Homo sapiens: one gene and its partners. The protein of the gene in region 3 purifies or fractionates together with the protein of the main gene of each other region. This does not show direct contact. Each region holds a gene or a part of one and is shown on either strand. Other genes may lie near its edges. The genes, in order: UBR2, PPM1B, CRHBP, TUBB1, PRR4, ERGIC2 and PLS1.

Region 1 (3,500 bases), on a different chromosome or scaffold from region 3:
AAAATTGAAGTCTTTTTTTTTTGAGATGGAGTCTCACTCTGTTGCTCAGACTGGAGTGCAATGGCACAATCTCGGCCCACTGCAGCCTCTGCATCCTGGGTTCAAGCGACTCTCCTGTCTCAGCCTCCCGAGTAGCTGGGATTACAGGTGCATGCCACCGTGCCCAGCTAATTTTTGCGTTTTTAGTAGAGATGGGGTTTCACCATGTTGGCCAGGCTGGTCTCAAACTCCTGACCTCAGGTGATCTGCCCATCTCGGCCTCCCAAAATGCTGAGATTGCAGGCATGAGCCACCATTCCCGGCCTAGATACATTTTTTAGCCTGGGCATTCACATTCAGTTGGTCAGCAGAGTCTGACAAATTCTCACCATTCCTTCTTCTACTTGTTTGGTTCAGCCCCATATTATTTCTTGCCTAGATTATCATAGCAGTTTTTACCCAGAATCTCACTCTTCTCTAATACGTTATTAGAGGGGCTCCTCAAAAGCAATCCTGTTCATATTCTTCATACTTTTACAAACTTCTTAACCTATTTCTCCATTATCACCTCCTGCCAGTTCCCACCCCTGTGGTCCAGACTTGTAGAATCACTGCCAGTTCCTCAATGCTAGTTCCCATGCCTTTGCACATTCCATTTCCTCTGCCTAGAGTACCCTAAGCAGACTGCTACTCTTTCAGATGCTGTTCAAGCTTTCCCTTCCCTTAGAAAGCCCTCTGAACCATGTACTGTGAGTTAGAGACCTCTCATCTGTGATGCCTGCCTCCTTCCCCACTTTCTTCCTTTCCCACCCCAGGACTTTAAGCTCTTTGAGAGCAGGAGGGGGAGAATGGGTTTTATTTGAAGATCTTCAGAACCAAGACCTAGTGTATATAGTAGGACCTCAATATTTATTGAACCAAACATTACAGAAAATTTGGAAAATGAAAAAACAAGCAGGAAGAAAAAAGTCATCAACTTATCACATACCCATCTTTTTCCATTAGCATATTTATGCTTGATTACAATTGGTACTCACATGTAGCTTTGTTTCTGCTGTATTCTTTAAATCAAGAGTTTTCTTATTACTGCTACTTAGTCCTCATAACAATTTTTAATAGCTGCAGGCACCCTCATTTGTACCACCATCTTCTTAGACAGTTTCCCCAATATTTGGAGTATCTCTTTAGGATACTCTACATTTTACGGAAGAGTATCCACATTTTAGAGGATCTCTTTAGGATAAACATAAGAGATATGTGTTTTAGGGTATCTGTTTAGGATAAACATAGAGAAATACTGCATCCGCATCTTGGCTTGTTTATTTGTTTTTTGAGATAGAGTCTCGCTCTGTTTTCCAGGCTGGAGTGCAGTGGTGTGATCTCAGCTCACTGCAACCTCTGCCTCCAGGGTTCAAGTGATTCTCCTTCCTCAGCCTCTCGAGTAGCTGGGATTACAGGTGTGAGCCACCACACCCGGCCTGCACTGGCATCTTGGGAGTGTCCCTTGCTTTCTGTCAGATGCGTATATTCTATATTCTTTTCTTTTCCAGAGAAAACCAGCAACATGGTGGCAAAGAGATAGATTTCATTTATTCAGCACACACTTAGACATTTCCCATTCCATTTATCCTGTGTTAGAGGCATGTCATTGAGATGTCATAGATCTAGTTCCATACCATCTAGAGCAGTTTCATTGTGCATCCAGCTGTGCTCTGAACTAGCATTCCTGAAAGAGAACTGCTTTGCATTTTTGTTTTTTGTTAATTGCGTTGGTTTATTTTAGGATGACTGTCTTAGGTCATTGACGAGATTTGCCGCAGCACACTGGACAGTGGCATCAGTTTCAGTGGTGCAAGGACATTTTTGTAAACTTTTTGCATGTGAGTATTAATACATTTATAACATGTTGTAATTTTTCATCCTCTGAAATTTTGTTTTTAATGGTACAGCTTCTCTCAGTAATGAATTAAATATTTAGTAGTACTGGTTTTCTTATATATAAGCTCTAGCTTATAAATTCTCATGTGTCTTGCAAGAAGATAAATTTAAAGCAGATTATATGCATTTTAACATGTTGGCATATGAAATATGCTAATGTATTTCTCTTTAAATCTGTAGCACTGGTGCCTAATGACAGCCATGAGGAACTTCCATGCATATTAGATATTGACATGTTTCATTTATTGGTGGGTATTGTGCAGTTTGTTTGGACTTCTACGTCATACTATGTAACTTTACCTTAGGTTTGGTGAGCAGTGTAGTGGCAGACAGGAAGGAGTTATGTGATTTCCTTACCCCTTCTGAGTATAATTCTTTTATGAGAAACCTCAAAAAGAAAATATTTAGGAACCTAGTTGAGAGACTTGACCTGGTTATCGAGACGTCCTCTGACTCTTATTTTGCTTTATGGCTGAGGTTAGTATTTTAACCTCTCTGTGCTTTTAACCTGTAAAGAGATAAAAACACCAGCAACGGGTCAGGTGTGGTGACTCATGCCTGTAATCCCAGCACTTTGCGAGGCTCACCCCAGATCACTTGAGGTCAGGAGTTTGAGAGCAGCCTTGCCAACATGGTGAAACCCTATCTCTACTAAAAATACAAAAAATTAGCTGGGCGTGGTGGCACATGCCTGTAATCTCAGCTACTCAGGAAAGTGAGACAGGAGAATCACTTGAACCCAGGAGGCGGAGGTTGCAGTGACCAAGATTGCATGACTGCACTCCAGCCTGGATGACAGAGCAAGACCCCATCCAAAAAAAAAAAAACAGCAACAGAAGCACTGCTGCTGGCCCATACAGTGCTTTTGTACATTTTCGAAAATCTGGCAGATACAGCCCTGTGGTCACACTACTTAGCAGCAGAGAGCCCCTTATAATTCAGGGAAAGGTATGTCCTCTGAGCCAGGACATCCTAGTGCTAAGACACACAGCTGTCCAAATAGTGGGTAGCCAAATTTCAGCCCTACCTCAACTGGGTTCCCTTGCACAGGGTACAGAGTGTACTGCCACACCCAGCAGCCCCGAGTGCTGTGCCTTTATTCTCTGGACCTCAGATTCTGCCCCTTTAAGTTGGTTAGTACCTACTTTATATGACTATGTCAGAACTCAGTGAGTTAATCCATGTAACACACTTAGAGCAATATATTCCTAATAAATGCGGCTATTACTGTTCTCATTGCTGCAACTAAAACCACCACCACTTATACTGCCATGCAGACAGCAGGAGGCCAACAGAGCTAGCATTTGTGTACCTGCCAGCTTTTACATACGTTCACACTTACATCTCTACAATTTACATGTAACATATTGTCTTTAGTTTACCAATAGGGAAACTGAGGCCTGATCAGAGATATTAATTTGTGTAAAACAGCTCATAAGAGGAGGAGGTAGGATTCATATCTAGATATTTATGGGTCCAAAACCCATGTTTTTTCAACTGCCTACAGTCCTGGAGAGAGTTCAGATACTGTTTTTGTTAACAATAAGCTATGTATAGAGGACCCACTGGATTAATGAAATCAT
Region 2 (4,098 bases), on a different chromosome or scaffold from region 3:
CCCCGTCTGAGGCAGGAAAACAAGCACTTTTTTTTTCTTTTTCTTTTCTTTTTTTTTTTTTTTTTGAGATAGAGTCTCACTTTGTCACCCAGGCTGGAGTGCAGTGGTGCGATCTCGGGTCACTGCAACCTCCGCCCTCCGAGTTCAAGCGATTCTCCTGCCTCAGCCTCCCGGAGTAGCTGGGATTGCAGGCACTTGCCACTGCGTGCTGCTAATTTTTTGTATTTTTAGTAGAGATAGGGTTTCACCATCTTGGCCAGGCTGGTCTTGAATTCCTGACCTCGTGATCCACCCGCCTCAGCCTAACAAGCCCTTTTTTTTTTTTTTTTTTTTAAGAGGGTCTCACTCTGTCGTTCAGACTGGTGTTCATTGGTATGGTCATGGGTCACTGAAGCCTCAACCTCCTCGACTTAGCTCAACCTCTCGCCTCAGTTCCCCAAGTAGTTGGGACTATGGGCGTGTTCCTTTTAAACATTTTTTGTAGAGATAGGGTCTCATTGTGTTTCCCAGGCTGGCCTAGAACTCCTGACCTCAAGGAATCCTCCTACCCGTCTCCCAAAGTGGTGAAATTGCATACACGAGTCACTGCTCCTGGCCAATGAGGGCAACTTTTTAAAAAATAACATTCATCTGCTCTCATTTTTCTAATAAAACATTGCCATTTATTATATGGCTTTATTAGTGTTATCTTTGTTGCAAAAGTATATGTAATAGTCTCTAAAGATGGTTAAGAGTTTGTGTCACATCAACTGTATCAATAACCTATTTTGTATTTTATTTTCCCAATATTTTAAGATGAAAACTTCCAAATGTATTTAAAAAGGGGATATGATATGTTGGAACAGCTGTATATTGTCTCTCTAGATTCAACAACTGTTAACATTTTGCCATAGTTGCTTTATTTTTCTTTTTATATCTACTGTTTTTTTTCTTTCTTTGACTGAACCCTTTGAGAGAAAATTGCAGACATCATATTTTACCTGTAAACATTTAAGCATGCAGCTCTTAAGAATGAAGATATTTTTCAGCCAGGCACGGTAGCTCACACCTGTAATCCCAGCACTTTGGGAGGCCGATGCAGGCAGATCACCTGAGGTTGGGAGTTCGAGACCAGCCTGACCAACATGGAGAAACCCTGTCTCTACTAAAAATACAAAATTAGCCGGGCATGGTGTCACATGCCTGTAATCCCAGCTACTCGGGAGGCTGAGGCAGGAGAATCGCTTAAATCCTCGAGGTGGAGGTTGTGGTGAGCCGAGAACATGCCATTGCCCTCCAGCCTGGGCAACAAGAGTGAAACTCCATCCCAAAAAAAAAAAAAGAACGAAGACATTTTTCTGTATAACCATAATACCATTATTATACCTAAGAAAATTCATTTTTTTAAATTTATTTTTAATTTTTGTGGGTACACTGTAGGTGTATAAAAAAATAAATTGTATAATATTGAATATCAAGTTTAAATTTCCCTAGTTGTCACTAGAGTGACTATTGTAATTGTTATTTTGAATCCCAGTCTAATCAAGTTTATCAATCAAGCACATTAAACAAGTCTTTAATCAGTCAAGCCCCTCACCTGTTTTTTTCCCCTTGAAACTGACTTTGAAGAATCTGAGCCAGTTTTTTACAATACGTCCTGCATTCTGAATTCATATGATTGTTTTCTCATGTGTGCTCTAACTTGATCCTCTATTCCCTTTTTTCCTGTAAACTGGGAATTAGCATTATTAGATTCATTCTAAACATTTTTTGGCACGAATACAGGACATGACTGTACTTTATAATGCATCATATCAAGAGGCACATACTGTAAAGATATCTTTATTTTAGTCTGTCGGCTTAACTGTGATCAGCTTGGATGATTAGAGCTTGTTCTGTACAGTATTAAGTAGTTACTATTGTAGAAACCTGTAGATTTTCCAAAATTCACTAAAATATGAAAGGATTGAGTAGTTTATTATTCATACTGAGAATACTTAATTTATTTTTATCTAGAGATGTTTTTATCAAAATAAGAGCAAAAAGTAAATACAATTTTTATCCGTAAAAACTCTAAAATCTTTCAAAAATCTGTTTAAATCTATATAGTTTTATGTTTTGTATTTCCTACTTATTTAGCAGAAATGATGAAGAAACTGTTCTGATGGCCTGCTTTTCTGTCCTTTTCCTACTGCTTTAAACATTGATTTTCTTTTGTACTAAATCATATAGCCAAATATTGTTTAAGTAAGTCAGTTTTAGGAAATGCTTGTGTTGCTGTTGAATTATAAAAGCTGAGTAAATTTCAGATTAAACTTTAAATGACTGTGAAATAAGACATAAACTAGTTAATGGTAATTTGCTTAAAATGACTTGAGATTATTATTGGAAGTTTTTATTAATTGATACAGGTAAGAATTGATATTTAATAAAATGTTCTCATGCTTAGACTATATTACTTTTCGGTAGAGAAATTAGTATTTTGCTGTAATGTGTTATGAAATACATGTGATATCCTAGTTTGTCTACTGACACTGGGGTCTTGAATCTTAAAAAAAGGCCTCCGATGAAGCAGAGGAAAGTGGATCACAGGGAAAATTGGTGGAAGCTCTCAGGCAAATGAGAATTAATCATAGGGGAAACTACCGACAACTTCTGGAGGAGATGCTGACTAGTTACAGGCTAGCTAAAGTAGAGGGAGAAGAAAGCCCTGCTGAACCAGCTGCCACAGCTACTTCTTCGAACAGTGATGCTGGAAACCCAGTGACAATGCAGGAAAGCCATACTGAATCAGAAAGTGGTCTTGCTGAATTAGACAGCTCTAATGAAGATGCAGGGACAAAGATGAGTGGTGAAAAAATATGACTTTCCTTTTTGGTAATATTTTTGTGATCTTTGATGGTTTTTAACCTAGGAAGTGTAATGTATGCATTTATATAACTGTTTTGTTATTTGAATCTTGGAAAACTAGTTTTATTATATTCAGATAGCCTTGTTTTTTAAAAAGGCCTTTGCATACACCTTTATGAGATAGTGTAAAATTGACTATTTATAGTACTATGGATTTAATGAAATTATATGTCATTTCACATTGTATGCCAGAAATTAGGCTACCAATTATGAATTAAAGTCAGTAGTTAAATTAATACTAGATAGAATTAGAAATTTTGATTAGAGAGATTATGCTATATTATGGAAAAACTTGTTAATGTAGAATTATACTGCTTCATATTATTTTACCTATTAGTACACTCATAGTTAGCTTTGTAATAAATTTATGTTTTCTTTAATAATTTTAGTTCTTCAAAGAATGGCTGATGCTGGCCTGTAATTTTTCTTTCAAGGATGATAATTTGTGTGTTGTTTGATTTGTTTATATTTTACATCTCTGTAGTTTTATTTTTAGAAGTTGTGAGATATTGGATGTGTGGCTATTTTTCCTTTCTCTGTATTCTTTATGAAACATAACTTTTGAAAAACCTATGTATTATTCATACAGCTTTGGTTTGTATATTCTGTATAGCCTAACTACACACATCAAAATGTATGTCAACCAAGTGTTTAGAATGAAATTATAAGTGTTTAAGTCCAAATAAAGCATGTGATGTGGAATAATCTATGCATGTTGTACTTATTTTTGAATTAATTTTTTAAAAACAACCAAGTTTGGTATATTGGAAGAATACCCATTAGAAATTCATTTGTATTTATATAACATTTAGAACACTTTTGGCTTACCTTTTTTCATTAACAAAAAGGAAAAGTTTAATATTAAAATATATGTGTTGCATACTTAAATCTATTCTTTTTCTTATCCATCTTTTGTGGTACAAAATATTAATCTTTGGACATTATGGGCACACATTAGACATGTGAGAAAATTGCCACAGTGAGCATTTTAAAGATTGCAGAATTGTCCATTTTGTTACAAATTTTTGTTAGTTATTAAGAAATTGAACAATTATGGGCTATTTTTAAAATAGTGGCAGATGAGAGTTTTTGTTTAAAGGGATTTTTAAATTATAGATTTGTCACATAGGGAAAAATATTTTTTAAAAATTATTTTATAACTGTAGAACATTAACTTTTCGTCTTTACGTTTATATTTATATCATGTGT
Region 3 (3,463 bases):
GACGGATCAAAGGCTAGTCTCCCTACAACCCTCCCCTTCCACCACATCTCACAAGGAAAGGGAGAGTGCCTTGTACTGGCCGTGGAACAAGCATGGGCTATCTCTTCATCTGCATAGGGTGCCAATTCACCTCAGCCTTTACCCACAAACCAAATCCTTCATCCAGATAAAGGGTAATTGATAGGAACCTCAAAAGGAGCAGTGGCTCACACCTGTAATCCCAGCACTTTGGGAGGCCGAGGTGGGCAGATCACCTGAGGTCAGGAGTTCGAGACCAGCCTGACCAACATGGAGAAACCCCATCTCTACTAAAAATACAAAATTAGCCAGGCGTGGTGGCACATGCCTGTAATCCCAGCTACTCGGGAGGCAGAGGCAGGAGAATCACTTGAACCCAATAGGTGGAGGTTGCGGTGAGCCGAGATCGCACCATTGCACTCCAGCCTGGGCAACAAGAGTGAAACTCCATCTCAAAACAAAAGAAAGGAGTACTTGAAACCCAGAAAACTTTTGTAACCGGGCCCTTGAGCCGCTCGCTAGGGTCCACTCCCACCCTGCGGAGTGCTTTCTCCCTTTAATACATCCCTGCTTCGGCTACTTTGTTCCTGTGTTTCATTCCTTTGTTACTTTGTGCGTTTTGTCCAATTCTTTGTTCAAAACGCCAAGAACCTGGACAACTTACACTCAAGGCCCTCCTTCCAGTAACGGAATAAAGTCTAAAATGAACCAAAGAGTGATATAATTCAAGCCTTAAAATTGTCTTAAAAGTGGTTTCAGTTACCTAGGTAATGTAGGCAAAAGTGGTTTTCTGGCTTTAGAATCACCTTTTTTTCTAATTCAAGTTATATCACTCAAGCGGAAAAATGACTTTGGCTTCAATTATCTAAATTGTAAGGCCTGATTGTTCTTTAATCCTTGTCTTACTTTTTAACCCAGCTGAGGTATATCTCCTCAAAGGTGCTCTCCAATCATGAGCATGGAAGTACTTTAGTGCCTCAGATCATGCACCCAAAAGGCTAAAGAAGCCGCATGCACTGACAGTTTAAACCATGGCTCAAGTGTCAATTAGCATTAGAGAATCCTCTAGTTTTCCGCAAAGTGGGATTTTGGAAATCTTTTGCCTTTACCTTGATTAGAAAGCTTGCTTTGAGCCCACTCCTACCTTAAATCTCATCTGAAACTTTTAGAATATAGGTGTATCTGGGGGAGGGTGGAGTGCATATCAGGCTTTAGTGCTGACTTTTGTATAATTCATCCTTTGGTATCCTCAGGAGATTGGTTCCAAGATGCTCCCCATCCCACGGATACCAAAATCCACAGATGTTCAAGTCCCTTATGTAAATGGCTACCTTTTACCTTTACCTATTTCCATGTAAACTACACACATCCTCCCATATACTTTAAATCATCTGTAGATTACCTATAGTACCTAATACAATGTAAAAGCTATGTAAATAGTTGTTATACTGTATTTTTTTGTGTGTTTTTTTTTTACCTGATTCTTTTCTTTTTTTTTATTTTATGGGGTGTGGTCTTGCCATGTTGCCCAGGCTGGTCTCAAACTGCTGGGCTCAAGCGATCCTCCTGCGTCAGCCTCCCAAAGTTCAGGAATTACACTGAATATATATATATTTTTTGAGACAGAATCTCACTCTGTCTAGTCTCGCTCTGTCATCCAGGCTGGAGTGCAGTGGCACAATCTCAGCTCACTGTAACCACCACTGCCCGGGTTCAAGCAATTCTCCTGCTTCAGCCTCCTAAGTACCTGGGACTACAGGTGTGCACCACGATGCCTGGCTAATTTTTTTATATTTTTAGTAGAGACGGGGGTTTCACCATATTGGCCACGCTGGTCTCGAACTCCTGACCTCAGTAATCTGCCCGCTTCGGCCTCCCAAAGTGCTGTGATTACAGGCGTGAGACACCGCGCCTAGCCTACGCTGAATATTTTCTATTACAATTGGTTGAATCTGTGTATGGGGAACCCACAGTTAAGAAGGGCTGACTGTATGTTAATTCTATTTTGGAGATGTTTTGTCCATCATCAACTCAGAGTCAGAAAATACTGGTGGTCTGGCCTGGTTTTAATTATTACAGGTAACAGCTGATCAAGAGGACTGTCTGCTTTGCAGCTTCATTGCCTAGCTGGTTAATGATCTGCAGTGACAGGAGAGGAAGGAGGCTACAGTAAGAATTAACTGAGATTAGAGACTGCTGTTCTTCTTCTGTTTTGTCTCGTTAATGTTAATCTAGGACTCCTGTGTCTGAAGTAAAGCTATGGGAGTGACCTTTACAGGAATGTTTTATGACTCCTCTCCCCCACCTCCCCGAGACTTCATTGAGTTATCTGGTCATGAGGTCATGAAGTCCCATCCATCCTCACCTGACATGAGCATAAAAAAGTGAAAATACTCACTTGTCTCTGACATAGATCTGGTTCTATTTGGCATATGCTGTGCCAAATAAACCAGTCTTCTATTACTGGTGACCGCTTTTAGATTTCAGAATTTACCTCTGTGTTACACTGGCCTTTGAGAGGCTAGTTTAGCCATAAGAAGTTATAGACTTAGCAGTTCTAAGAATTTCTAATAAAGCTTATCACTTTGTTGTTTATTTACTATGAGTAACACACACACATACATACACATACATAAAAAACAGTTATTTCATTATTATCCTATTACTAATTGATGATACATCTACTATTTGAACCATAAGTGTTTCAGTTAGTAAACTCTTTAGTCTCTAGAAAATGAAAGCAGAGACCCCCAAGAAAATGGAAAGAATGCAGATTTTAAAAGCTTTGTCTTTTTCATAGTTTTACTTAAGGCCAACCTTTATTGCTTCAAAGGTTTCTCTCCCAGTGTCGGATATTTTGGTAAAGATACTGATGTTATATATAGCCTCAAATCCTCATACTGGCTCAGTGTGAAAAATTGAAGGCTTTTTTGGCGAAACTCACCTTCCAATGTAGAAAATATTAGGGGAGTGCTTATTTTTTTTTAATCTTGATAGGCACATACATAACAATCAAAGAAATACCTCACCCGGGCCATGAAAGGGGTAGCAGAGATCAGCTAAAGGCGTCATCTTGGAAGGGTCCAATCCAGTTCCTCCCAGCAGCTCCACAAAGTCTCCTATTCCCTCGCAACCTGCTGAGGATTTCTAAGGGAATAAAGCAGCAGAGAAAGACACATTTAAACCAATTACAGAAGTCAAACCATTTGACCAACAGCGGGTCCATGAATTCACTCAATCAGCCCTCAACATCCTGGCAATACCATTTAATTTAACATCTGGGACTCTGGAAATTAAAAGACATTTAAAAGAGAAAAAATCATAAAAATTGCTTTTCTAAATCAGTTGAGTAATCATTTTTTTTAGAAATGTGTGTACATGTTTTTTTCATTTTTTTTAAGCTCAAGGACTGGAATGATAAAATGGAAATCTGTAAACTCCATAT
Region 4 (2,363 bases), on a different chromosome or scaffold from region 3:
CTTGTGATATGGAAAGGAGTGAAGTCACTGAGTAAAAGACAAGTTTACTGTCAGCAGAGATTCTTAGAGGCTCTTTTCTCCGTGATTAAAAAAAAATCCTAAACCAGTAGTATAATAAACTTCCTGCCTCCAGCAGTGCTGGGTAGCTGGCAGGATGACTGTGCCCAGTGATGAGGTGACCCCAGTCAGACCAACTTAATGAGTATCCCACTAATTAGTTGGATGATGTTTGAAGCTGTCAGTTAATCTCTTAGTTCACATCGTTCTTGTGAGCAAAGTGAAGGAATCGGATAAGCTCTAAATTTCGGTGATGCTGCTGCTCTGAGAGACCAAGGTCGCTGGAGCAACCGTACTGCTAAAGGATAAGCTCTTCAAAATCAAAAGGGACAGATTTCTTAAGTTTCTAGTTTGTTTTGTGTTTTTACATCTATTTCTACCATACGAAAGAGTAGGATGGTGAGATGCATTTCTAAATATTTTTAACTACTCAGTCTGGATGGTTAGGCTTCAAGAAAAGGAATTTATTTAGTCTGAAATAAAGCAATTTTGCCATTTAAAATTGAATTACTTTGTAGTTTAATGATTACTATTGAGCAAACAAATCTTTACAGTAATATAAGTCAGCAAAAGTTTTTTAAAAGGTTTAAATCCCTCCTTCCTTACATCTATTTCATTGCTTTTTTAGGTTTGGGAAGTAAAGCACCAGAGGAAGCATGTGTAAATCCTTGTATAATCGCAGGCTGTAAGTCTTTAGCATCTCAGGAAGTTACTAACTTCAAACTAAGTATATAGGTAGAGTTTCTTACTAAATCTAGTGCTTCTTGAACCACAAGTAGAAAGCATTTAAAACATGAATGTTGTTTTGTGTTTTTTGAAGTTTGTAAATAGAAGACTTGTTGATGATCCGATGGCAAGGTATTTTTCTCTTGGTATGTATTTTAGTTATTTCCTCGTGATGCATAAGTGAAAAGAGTGAAGTTTCTCAGAATGAGCAACTGTCATCCATCTACCTGCTATTTTATTATTGCTGATTACAAAAGCAAATCAAGAGATGAGAACCCAGTTGCCTGCAAGTAAATATTTACTGCATTGAGGGTCGGAGCATTTTCCCATTACCGGTTATCCATGGATCAAATAGTGTATCTCAGTGGTAATTCTAGAGGGCCATTAAAACCCTGATGGTGCTGGAAGAGATGGCAGTGCTGCATGTCAGAAATAGGTAAACTGTAATTAAGAAGTTACAGATGATTTGATTACGCTCTTGTGTATTTGGTCCTGTTATAATGTGAGCAGATTAAAATCATGTAGTGCTTAAAGCTATGTCATTATGCAAACATTTATGGCAACTTCTGCAAATTAATTTGAACTGTAAAAGTTCCCTAATGAGACGATGTCCTCCATAACTGAGAAGGACACTGCAGCCATTGCTGCTTAATTCCTGCATTTGAATGGTTGCCGAGCGCATGGTGTGCCCTTTCTCAAAGAGCAGAGAGGCTGCAGAGCATTTTGGGGGGTGATGACTGAATGAAAGTGAAAAGACCATTTCAAAATAGCCTTTAAAAGGAAAGCCAAGGATGATTATTAATGAATTCCTGGGATCTAACAGTAGTAAGAAATTTAAACTATATAAACATATATGTTAAAGGCTAGCTCTTCAGAAATAAAGATCAGAAGACTGCAGTTCTTTAGTTTTGCTTGTCTTTTTGTTTTTCTTGTTTGGACCAGGTATTTTTGTGGAGAGGACTGTGGCTTTTCTTTTTTCCTCTTTTCCAGTTAGCATGTTGTATGCACAGGTCTACACAACATGGATATTTCTAGTGGATGTTGACTCACATTGACCTTGGCTCTGTAGCTCCCCATGTACTAGTCAGGCACCTGGCTCTTCTGGAGGCTGGCAGGCACTGGAAAGCAGGATGCCAGTCAGTGTTTGCTCAGAGGAAAGAACCTAAGGAAAGAGTCTTAGTAGCCCTCGGATACCAAGTGAGGATTCCAGGGTGCCTATCAGTGCTGCTAAAGTATAAAAATGTAACACCAACTCCAGTGGCTCCCTGCAAATCCACACGTGTAGTCTGGATGCCTGGCAAACACTTTGAAACAAAGGGAGCACTTTACAATAAATTTGCTATTTTTTTAAGTTAATAAGTATGCACTGAACATCAAACTCTTCAAGGTTAGTAGATGTCAGCAAAGACCCTAATGCCTGTCAGCTGCTCCCCACCTGTCTCCCTCAGTCCCTGTGTCGAAGCTAATGGTGAGTGCATATCATTCACTGTGCTGCAGTGCAGAGTGGGTTTTGGAGTGCTGCAGGAGAAACACTCATCTAATGAGAAACTGTTCTGTAAGCGACTCCGCGGCACAGCTTC
Region 5 (3,999 bases), on a different chromosome or scaffold from region 3:
CTGGCGGAAACCTGAGAGAAACCTGAGATGGAGAGTCCTTGGGTTTGAGAAGGCAGACTCAAAGACAGGAGGCAGAGCACCAAAGGGAGAGCACACCCCACTTCCTCATTACCAACTCATTTTAATGAGACAAGTCATCTTAAGAAAAAAGTTGGGGAGGTCAGTATTTCAAAAGATAAGAATTCTTTGAACCACTTGTTAAAAATACAAGGACTTGCAACCTTATCCAAGAATATCTGAATACAAATCTTTAGAAATGGGGTCCAGGATTATGTAATTTCAACATATTTCCAATTGATTTGTGAACACGATAAAGTTTGGGAATGGTAGCAGTTTGGGCATTTAATGGAGAATGAACTGGAATCATACCTGCCACTGAATTCTAGATTACCAGAGTGGTTGCTCCTGGGGATGTCTTGCTGGTCTGTCCCTCTGGAAGAATGATGATGCTTCCTGCAGGCTGACAGAAGGAAATCGGGGTAGAGAGAGTTGACGGTGTCCTCGTCGGGGTGGTCGTTGCTGATTTTGAAAAGGAGGTGGGGGAGGATGGCGGTGATGGCCTCCTGGTTTTGGTGGTCTCTGCTGAGGACCATCATCTTGGTTACCACTATCACCAGGGGGTCTAGGTAGGAGTCCTTCAGGAGGAGGTCTCTGGGGTCCCTGATCTGGTCTCTGACTTGAGTCCTCTACATCTGTGTGAGTAATTAATGGACAAGAATGCATGAGCTCAGTGAAGAAAAACTCTCCTCTCTTTATACTTCTCTCACCTTACCACACAGCCCTGTTCTCCCCAAACCTGCTGCTTGACTGTCAACTTCTTTTGTGCCCACTGTTTTTTTTTTCTTTTTATGCAGCTCTCAACTTAATCCATGTAAGAGTGATATGGAAAGTCTCATTTATTTGCTCCTGTGACAAGTATGTTTCCTTAAATGAAAAGAGGGGTTCTTGCATATCTTAGAGTTGCCAGAGGATGTCTCCAAGGACAGAAAAAAAAAAAAAAGCAAAAGCATTATAGCTTTCAGTTATGTTACTGGTTATTTTTTATTTTTATTTTTTGGTTGCTGTAATGACTTACAAACTGTGACTCCATCTCTGGGCACCTAAGCCCTATGTGGAAACTAGAGCTGATTTCCCAGGCTCCTGGAACCAAGTAGAGAAATACTAAGAGACAGAAGAGAAAGACAATGTGAAAGCCTGCACATGATCACTAAACAGCTGTGGCAACTATTTATCATCTGTAGTGACACAGCTGAGTGGGTCAACACAGAGAAAAGACATTCATGCAGTGATTTTTTTGTTTTGTTTTGTGTTACTCCCTGAAGCCACATAACCGTGCGGGGGAACACTGGGGGAAGAAAGAAGCAGTTAAGGATGGAGGAGTCAGAATGAGAACACTTCTCATTTGTTCATCATCTCTCAGCAGTCATTCCAGCCTGGGAAAAAAGCCTGCCCACTCCTATTGTCCTCAAAGCCAGGCATCTCTGTATTCAAGTTGGTGGCCTGGCTCATGGTCCCCAGAATCAAAGATGGGTAAGAATTGCCTATATATTTAGGGGCACTAATATTAATCAATGCCTGACCCCTCTTACCACCTCCTCCCAAAAAAATGATGAGAAGAAGACACTGAAGGAAACTAAAAAGAAATTCTAGTGGAAAAAGAAAGAAAAGAATTGGATTGAGGATCATTGGGATTTACCTGGTATGGTGAAAGTAAAGTCTTCATAGTTCACATCTAGGAAAAGAAGCACAGGATGAAGTGAACATTACCTCATAAATCTTTCAGGGCTCATAGTGGTCTATAGGGAAAGGGGTCTTCTGGCCACACCCTGTGCATCCCCTAAGTTACCTCATCAACCATGTTCTGTGAAGCTGCTGGAAGGGGAGGAAGATGTTAGGGGAGGCAGGATTGTTACTATCGCTGAGCATCAACCACGAATTCAATAGAAGAGTCCCTTTTTGTCATCCTTAGGATCCCTCAAACCCTAATGCTAATTTAGGCACACTTCTCTGGGTATTTTCATGTCATATTTTAGATCTTTACCTTCTTCCTTCTTTAAATATTTTGATCATATTCACAAGCTTGCCCAAGAGGAGCAACCAGGAGTAAATATTTGGATATAATCTTACACATGCTGCCTGCAACATATTGAAATTTTAAATGTGATTGGAAGAAAAATGGGAATTTGGGGACCTGATATTTCTATACCACTATGTAGAAAGACACAAATGTATTATCCAGTCCTCTATGTCTGACAGTACTCTGATGTTTGTTTATCTCTTTCATTGATTCTGCATCCCCTGTACAGCAAGGACACCATCATCGCTGTCCACTGAGATTACTGTAGCATCTTCATAGCTGGACTTCCCTGGATCAGTCTTGCATTCTCCACTGCATCCTTCACAGCACAGCCAGGTCTTTCTAAAAATACAAATCTTACTTTGTCATTCCTCTAATTGAAATTCTCTATTGGGTTCCAAGTGTATATCAAATAAAGTATAAGGCCTTGGCATGGAATGAGGGCACAACAGATGTCATCCTTGGAATGAGAGCTCCAAAGCCCTACCCTTCTTCTCAACCTCCTTCCTCCCCTCCTGCTCTTCCGCTGCAGTGGTGTAGGGTGAACCCCTGAGGCCCTAGAAGAGTCATGGCCCCTCATCCCACTCCCCATCTCCTTTTTTAAAAAAATAATTTTTTTACCATTATCTGTGCTCTGAGCTGAGCTCAGAGCCAGAAGGACCACTGAGAGCAGGACCAGCAGCATCTTGAAGGAGGCTCTGGAGTTGCTCCCAACTCTGCGTTGAGAGAAACATGGCAGCTCCCTTTATAAACATGAGCAGAACAATGGCACCTTTGAGCTCCATACTGGGTGGACCTCACCACCTGAAAGATTAGGTTTTGCTTTCCTCTCATAAAGTTGAATGCGTCTCTTATTACTTTTTGGGATTTTAGCCCAGCAGGATGTGGTGGTAGGATGTGGTTAGGTACAAACTGTGACTTGAGCATAGTTTCTGAAGAAACAGTATCCAAGCAATCAGCACAAATACTACAATTGAAGTTTGGTCATCATTTGATTTTCAATTGGGTTAGACAGTTAGTCTTTCCCCTTCATTGGTTGTCTGTGTGCACACGTGCTTACGTTTGTATATGTTTGTCAGCAGTGATCTTATAGCCAGAAGTGAAAATGATTAATATCTCTAGCTATTAGTGTAGCATAAATTCCATTTTTATAGCATATATACCTATATGGATGATATGTAGCTTAATTTCATAATAATATAGAGATCATTTCTGTTTAATGTTGAGTTGTGTGAGGACAACACACACTTGGGCACACGTGGATGACAGAAGTTTTACCCTCAGGCTACTCTGGCCCAAAGAGATTAAGATTCTCCTAATCTAGCATTAACCAGAGATACTTTATTGTTGTAGAACACAGGTATTAAAACATTCTATCTTTATTAATACCCTGGAGGTTAGTAAGGCAAAATTGGCCACAGAAAGCACCATTAGATTTCTGCATCAGAACAGTGTGAATACACAGTTCCTTGAACAAGCCATGCTATTTTATGTCCCTAAGACTTCTTCCATGATCTTTCTCTTTTCTAGAATGTTCTATATGATTCAGTTTAGGTCTTACTTCTTGTACCAAATATTTTAATCACACTGGTTATTGAGTGGACACAATAATACAATCTAATTAGATAGTATGATAGCCTGTTGAAAGCCTCAAGTATTACATTGATTTTCTATTTTTTAATTAGTTTCCATTCTATTTGCTTCTCAGATTGCCTTTACCAAAGATTATTTTCTCTGCAATATTCTTATACTCATTCTTCTTCACTCTTGTGCTGAACCTTACTTGTTGATATGTTATATTGTGAATCAATCCTCCCTATGTCTATGTTTTATATCTTACTGCTTTCTTCATGCGTTCTGGGAGAAATCTTTATTTGATTTTCTAAACAAGGTTCTGTACTTCTCTTTGCTTGCTTTCTTCT
Region 6 (3,160 bases), on a different chromosome or scaffold from region 3:
TTTAATCTTTTATAATGTGAAGATTTAGAACCAATCCTTAAATAGTAAGAAAGTTAGAACACAATCTAATACAGAATCAATCATATTCAGGACACCCTGAATGCAAATACTTCATAATACAGTTTTATAGTTTAATGGACAATGTTTAACATGGCACCTCTCAAATCTGATATATCTTGTGGTGCTTACAATTTGCCTTACACTTTCATTTAAAGTTACCCTGTTCTCCACTCACCACATGTATAAAATATCCTATTTTTTCTCTTAATGTTTTACAAACCGGTAATTTTCACTATCAGTAGCGGATCTTTTTATAACTCACCCTATGTTGCCCAAAATACACCAATAATATAATGATTAGATTAAAAAACTTGGCATCTTTTTTAAAAAAATGTGCTTTCTTTTCCGTGTATAAGATTCTACTATACCATTTGTGAATGACACCCTAGTTACATAACACCTACATATCTGCCCCTGTGAGAATTTACCTTAGTCTTCTAAGACTCTATCTTCAACAGTTAGATAAGTCAATAACCAGAGTTCAAAGAAAAGTAGTTACTTTTTAAGACCAAATTATTGGATAACTGGTCTTGTCAATATGGCTTAACATTAATATGGCTATAACATAGGGACTAGCCCGTTTTTTTTTTTTATTAACAATGTGACCTGATCACAATTCTTTAAAGTCTAGACTAGTTTTCCGTATGTTTTCCACATTTTATTCTGACATCATATCTTTTAAAAACAAAAGGATGCGAACATTTGCACTTCTCAATGTTTTTTTTTTTCCCATAGATGTAGTTTCACTTATTTCCTTCAGGCTTTTTATCAGCAAGAAGCAATGTCTGATTTTGATACCACCCATTTGCTATGAAAATATAAGAAGGCGTCATCTTCAAAGCAACACTCCAGTTGGGCTTCTTCATCGTTTAGCTGCATGATTTCTTCTACGACATTTGTAACAGACACAACGTATATAGAATTTCAGTTTGGGTTTTTTTATCCTTTTTTTTCTTTTTTAAAATAAGTATGTTTTCTGCTTATTTGTGTTTTCTTTTCTTTGAATATATTGCACAATATTTTATTATTAAAAAAAGGTTTTATGTCTCAGGCAAAAAGTTTTTCTCCTTCAATCGGGAGGTGTTAATGTGTATTATTTTCTAAAAGAGGTAAGTGGTTGTCTGTGTGGCCATCCTCAAAAGGAACCTAAGGAGAAAAGGAGGGAAAAAAAGACCAAAGAATTAGTTTTATTCCTTATACTCTTTCCTCTAAACACAAGGTTTTATTTTGGGCAATCCTTTCTAGTAACCAAAAGCTACTATTTCTCTCTCTCTCTCCCCCTATTTCTCTATCTCTCTATCTCTATCTTTTTTGAGGCAGGGTCTGCTCTGTCACCCAGGCTGGAGTGCAGTGGTACGTACGATCATAGCTCACTACAACCTCAACTTCCTGGGCTCAAGTGATCCTCCCACTGTGCCCTCCCAAGTAGCTGGGACTACAGGCTTGCACCACCTTGCCTAGCTAATTTTTTCTATCTTTTGTAGAAATGGGGCTCTCACTATGTTGCCTTGACTGGTCTCAAACTCCTGGGCTCAAGCGATCCTCCCGCCTTAGCCTCCCAAAGTCTTGGGATTACAGGTGTGAGCCACCATGACTGGCTCATAGACTTAACAATGATTCTAAGATTTAGAGATCAGCACCATGTATACTACACCACTTACAGAATTGACAGGTTTATAGGATCCAAGTCTGAAACGACAGCAAATTATTTCAACTATAAATTTTCCAATTCCATGTAACATGCCTGTAATAAACAATAAGTTTATGCTTTTAATTATTTCCTAAACTGTTATTTAAGAATAAATAACTATAATGGAATAGATTACGGAAGAAAACAAAGCAGTTTGCATTATTCACTTCCATGGTTAAAAATAATCAAGAAAGATTTTAAAACAAATGGATTTCTTTTCAAAGTCACAAGGCCACATAATTCACGATCTCAGCACAATCTTTTTTTTTTTGAGACGTCTCACTCTGTTGCCCAGGCTGGAGTGCAGTGGTGCAATCTTGGCTCACTGCAACCTCCACCTCCCAGCTCAAGCAATTCTTGTGCTTCAGCCTCCCAATTAGCTGGGATTACAGGCATGTACCACCATGCCCGGCTAATTTTTTATATTTTCAGTAGAGACGGGGTTTAGCCATGTTGGCCAGGCTGATCTGGAACTTCTGGCCTCAAGTTGATCCGCCAGCCTTGGCCTCCCAAAGTGTTGGGATTATAGGCATGAGCCACTGCACCGGGCCTAAACACAATCTTTTCAAGGTTTTCCCACACCAATACAATTTTGGAAAATAAATGATGTCAACAACACAAATTTAAATAGATTGAAATGAAGCACTAACAAAGAATTTCGAAAGAAAAGCTATTCATTCATTTAAAAATATGATTCTAAGTATAATAAACTACCCAGCTCCATCTAATACTGAATAAGGACTGAAGATGAAAATAGAATTGTTTCCTTTTTCTCTATTGTACTTAACTCCCAATTTTCATCATTACAATTCGACAAATAATCTTAGCGAATTCCAGGATCTCAGGACAAAAATCATAAACATGTTACTGATTACAAATCTAGTTTCATGTATTGCATAATTCAAAGTACTATAACATATGATTTTACATACTGTACAGTTAAAAATGTCTTAAATGCCTTCTAGGCATTTTCATATTTAATCCTATAGCACACTTGCAAATTAGGTATTATTATTGCTATTTTTACTGATTAGAAAACCTCAGAAAAGGTAGGTGATCTATTCCAAGCTACCACCAAGTAAATGACAGAACTTACATTCAATTCTACTTCAATCTGATGTTAACACCCAGGATCTTTCCAACTCACCATTATATAATCTACCTTACATCATTGAATACAATGAAATTAGTTATGTTTACTGGTTAGTCAATATAATTTTGGAGTTTTGTAATTAAAGCAAAAGCTATTTAAACACCGAAACATGAAAATCTGTATACTTCTTGCCCCTTTGAGAAGAAGCAACTTAAGTATAAGCAACACTTTCAGAAATTAGACAAAAAGGAAATGGTTGTTAACCTGTTGTTGAAAAGATTCCTCCAACAATACCACAGAGTCTTACAAAAAACTGC
Region 7 (3,500 bases), on a different chromosome or scaffold from region 3:
TTGACAATAGTGGGTATGTCAGTGACTATGAACTTCAAGACCTGTTTAAGGAAGCAAGCCTTCCTCTGCCTGGCTACAAGGTGCGCGAGATTGTGGAGAAAATTCTATCAGTTGCTGACAGCAACAAAGATGGCAAAATCAGTTTTGAAGAGTTTGTGTCAGTAAGTAATCTAATCCTTTCGGGCTACTGATAATCTTGCTTAGAGCAGAATTGTAGTAATGTCATCACTAGCTTTGGTTAAATCCAGCTTCAGAGACCAGAAAAAGGACTGCTTTAAAATGATGATGATGATGATGACAATAACTATTATTATCGAAATAATTTCCACAACTAATTCATAAAACAAAGGAAAAAATTATTCTCAAATTGTTGGAATGGAAATCAGGTTTAGATAATAGTAATTCATTCCCTAGAATAACTAGGTGAGTTCAATGCTTATTGACCATTAATATAATTGAATAAATATTTATGAAATATAAATTGTCTGGTTTTGCATTCTTTATTGATTAAGCAGGTATTTTAGCTCTTCTCTTCCTAGAAATTTTGCTAGGCACTGTGAGTAATGTGATGAGTAAAAAGAAACGTGATTCCTGTCTTCATGGAGTTTATATGTGTGGAGAAGACTGCATTGCACAAATTGATAAAAGATAATTGGAGAATTGCTATGACAGAGTGGTACAGGTCCTGTGAGAGTTTGTGGTAGAAGGAATTGAATTTGGAGGCAAGGCTGGATAACCCAGGGACTCAGGGAAGGTATCCCTACAGTGTGAAGACTGTGATGTGTTCTGAAGAAAGATGTTAAACAGATAAAAGTGGGTTGTGGGAAAATGAATAATGTAGGAGGCAGGTAGACATGACAGCATGTGTAGAGTCCCTGTGGCTTTAGAGATGGTGAATATTCTCAAGCAACTGAAAGAAGGTTTGTGTGACTGGAGCTGAGATGGTAAGGGTAAGGAATGTAGCTGGAGAAGTAACTCAGAATCAGGTCACACAGGGCCATGTCGAATTTTTGTTTTTATCCTAAAAGCAATAGGAAGACAATGAAGTGGGAAGAATAGAATGTGAAGTGACAAGATCAGATTTGCATTTAAAAAAAAACCCAATCACTTTGCTGCAAGCAGAACTGATTGAATTGAGTCTTGCCAATCTCTGGTGAGTCCAGTGAGAGAGTGATTGGGAAAGGGAGTTTCTGTAAGCCTATGTTATTTCCTCTAAGAGCTGACTTATTTTATCATGAATGCATTTGAGATGTTCAGGCAGGAAAATATCTTCATTAAGGCATTCTTCTATCTTTAGCATGTAGTTAGTTATTTCTTAGGTTTTCAGTACAAAAGATTATGGCAAGCCAAGAAGAATAATTTCAGTGTGTTCAATTTAAGCTTAGTTATAAAAAATTTATTCCACCGTTTGGGGTTCAAGTATTTGTCTATTTTGTGTTATTGGTAAAATGATGAAAGTTATCTGTGTATACAAGCAATAAGTACAACTGACTAGTATTTAATTTGGTGTCATTTCAAATAAAGAAGTGTAAATAAATATCCATTTTGTCAGGTTTTTATTGATTATCTGATTCTCAATTTTACTTATGTTCCATTCCAGCTAATGCAAGAATTAAAAAGCAAAGATATCAGCAAAACATTCCGAAAAATAATTAACAAGAGGGAAGGGATTACTGCTATTGGAGGAACTTCAACTATTTCCAGTGAGGGCACACAGCATTCTTATTCAGGTAACTGACTTCTCCAAATTTGATCTTTTAGTCACTGATTCATTGATTAAGTGACATATTTAATCAGTTCTAAGATGCCACTCATTGTGATTCATACCGTTATTTTATGTGCCACTGAGGAGAAAAAAATACTGCAGACCACAGTATAACATGCCATTGAATTTGAAATACATCTCAGTTTCACAGATGTCAAAATGAAAAATCCTAGAATCATTGAAATCAATGAGTTCCTGCTGTGTATCAGGCTCAGTCTACAGAAACAAGATTATAAACAACAAAGTGGAAGTTGTTTATACTCCAGCATTAGATGTATTTAAAAGTGGCTTTTCAATGGCTTTTCATCCTGACTGATGAGGTGGCTTTACTTTTAGACCTGAGCTAGGAATGGGGGAGAGGCTTCTATCACAAGGATTTTTCTCTTCCATTTTCTGAGATCTGAGATACCCGATTCACCTTTTATCTAGTAACCAAGTGACTAGAGAGCATAGCACCTGATTTGCTTGATCTGATTAAACCACTGGACCATTGCCCAGTGGGAAATGCAGAAGCATATCAACTTTTAAGATGAGGTGTCTTCCCCGTGTTAAGTTATCTAAGATGTCTAAGAACCTTTGGCCAAGTTCTTTTTATTTATATGAACATAACTAGAACTATGCTTTTTGGCCTTTTGACAAAATTACCTGTAACCTTTTCCCCTCTTTCTTCATTTCAGATCTGAATCTGTTAATTATCCTCTTGATTCTGTCCCTTCCTAATTGGATTTTCCTCTAGCGATACACTCAAATTTCTCTCATCTATTATATGTTTTTCCTAACTTTTTCCCACTAGGGAAGCAGCCATAAAGGCAAAGGTCCATAACTGTTACCTTCACTTTTTGAAAGGTATTCACCCCTTAACCCAGTTTCTGCCTGTCAATTCTACTGAAGTGGCTTCTTTTTAAAGACAAAAAAAAATTATTAAGGTATAATACACATTCAGCAAAGTGCTATAATCTTAAGTATATGGCTCAATGAATTTTTCCATGTGTATATACATTCATGTAGCTGCCAACCAGAACAAGACATGGAATCTTTTCATCACCTGAAGACTCCCTCATTCCCCTGATAGTAACTATTCTTCCCTAGAGGTAACCTCTTTTCTGATATTTGTCACCATAAATTTTTGTTTACTTATTTTTTGAGGTATAAGATACTTGTAGTAAAGTGCATGAAGTGTACTTTTTTTTTTTTTTTTTTTTTGAGATGGCGTCTCGCTCTGTCGTCCAGGCTGGAGTGCAGTGGTGCGATCTCGGCTCACTGCAAGCTCCACTTCCCAGGTTCACGTCATTCTCTTGCCTCAGCCTCCTGAGTAGCTGGGACTACAGGTGCCCGCCAACACGCCCAGCTAATGTTTTTGTATTTTTAGTAGAGTCAGGGTTTCACCGTGTTAGCCAGGATGGTCTCGATCTCCTGACCTCATGATCCACCCGCCTTGGCCTCCCAAAGTGCTGGGATTACAGGCATGAGCCACCACACCAGGCTGAAGTGTACTATTCTTAAGTATATGGCTTGATGATTTCTTTTAACCTATGAATACACCTATATAACTATTCTCTAGAAAAATATATGGAATATTTAATGGCTTTTATAAAAAATAGCAGCTTTATTGAGATATAATTGACATACCATGGAATACATTTTTAAAGTATACAGTTCAGTAGTTTTTAGTGTATTCATAGTTGTGCAATTGTCATCACTATTTAATTTCAGAACACTTTCATTACACCAAAGA

Evidence for each region.
Region 1: the proteins of CRHBP (region 3) and UBR2 purify together in Homo sapiens (co-immunoprecipitation; 2 studies listed by BioGRID and IntAct, with this or other methods). This does not show direct contact.
Region 2: the proteins of CRHBP (region 3) and PPM1B purify together in Homo sapiens (co-immunoprecipitation; one large-scale study listed by IntAct). This does not show direct contact.
Region 4: the proteins of CRHBP (region 3) and TUBB1 purify together in Homo sapiens (affinity purification with mass spectrometry; 3 studies listed by BioGRID and IntAct, with this or other methods). This does not show direct contact.
Region 5: the proteins of CRHBP (region 3) and PRR4 purify together in Homo sapiens (co-immunoprecipitation; one large-scale study listed by IntAct). This does not show direct contact.
Region 6: the proteins of CRHBP (region 3) and ERGIC2 purify together in Homo sapiens (affinity purification with mass spectrometry; one large-scale study listed by BioGRID and IntAct). This does not show direct contact.
Region 7: the proteins of CRHBP (region 3) and PLS1 purify together in Homo sapiens (affinity purification with mass spectrometry; 3 studies listed by BioGRID and IntAct, with this or other methods). This does not show direct contact.

Annotation. Positions count from the first base shown.
Region 1 is NC_000006.12:42,672,029-42,675,528, forward strand, and holds part of UBR2 (E3 ubiquitin-protein ligase UBR2), read left to right. Parts: intron 1-1,762; coding exon 1,763-1,859; intron 1,860-2,097; coding exon 2,098-2,165; intron 2,166-3,500. UniProt on the Homo sapiens protein: E3 ubiquitin-protein ligase which is a component of the N-end rule pathway.
Region 2 is NC_000002.12:44,227,875-44,231,972, forward strand, and holds the end of PPM1B (protein phosphatase 1B), read left to right. Parts: intron 1-2,118; coding exon of another isoform or gene 2,119-2,127; exon of another isoform or gene 2,128-2,538; coding exon 2,539-2,844; 3' UTR 2,845-3,598; downstream 3,599-4,098.
Region 3 is NC_000005.10:76,963,045-76,966,507, reverse strand, and holds part of CRHBP (corticotropin-releasing factor-binding protein), read right to left. Parts: intron 3,166-3,463; coding exon 3,048-3,165; intron 1-3,047. UniProt on the Homo sapiens protein: Binds CRF and inactivates it. May prevent inappropriate pituitary-adrenal stimulation in pregnancy.
Region 4 is NC_000020.11:59,024,792-59,027,154, reverse strand, and holds the end of TUBB1 (tubulin beta-1 chain), read right to left. Parts: 3' UTR 501-2,363; downstream 1-500. UniProt on the Homo sapiens protein: Tubulin is the major constituent of microtubules, a cylinder consisting of laterally associated linear protofilaments composed of alpha- and beta-tubulin heterodimers.
Region 5 is NC_000012.12:10,846,676-10,850,674, forward strand, and holds the start of PRR4 (proline-rich protein 4 isoform 2 precursor), read right to left. Parts: upstream 2,801-3,999; 5' UTR 2,763-2,800; coding exon 2,699-2,762; intron 1,733-2,698; coding exon 1,697-1,732; intron 693-1,696; coding exon 388-692; coding exon of another isoform or gene 370-387; intron 1-369.
Region 6 is NC_000012.12:29,340,013-29,343,172, forward strand, and holds part of ERGIC2 (endoplasmic reticulum-Golgi intermediate compartment protein 2), read right to left. Parts: coding exon 3,108-3,160; intron 1,805-3,107; coding exon 1,722-1,804; intron 1,207-1,721; coding exon 1,144-1,206; 3' UTR 1-1,143. UniProt on the Homo sapiens protein: Possible role in transport between endoplasmic reticulum and Golgi.
Region 7 is NC_000003.12:142,669,393-142,672,892, forward strand, and holds part of PLS1 (plastin-1), read left to right. Parts: coding exon 1-161; intron 162-1,600; coding exon 1,601-1,730; intron 1,731-3,500. UniProt on the Homo sapiens protein: Actin-bundling protein. In the inner ear, it is required for stereocilia formation. Mediates liquid packing of actin filaments that is necessary for stereocilia to grow to their proper dimensions.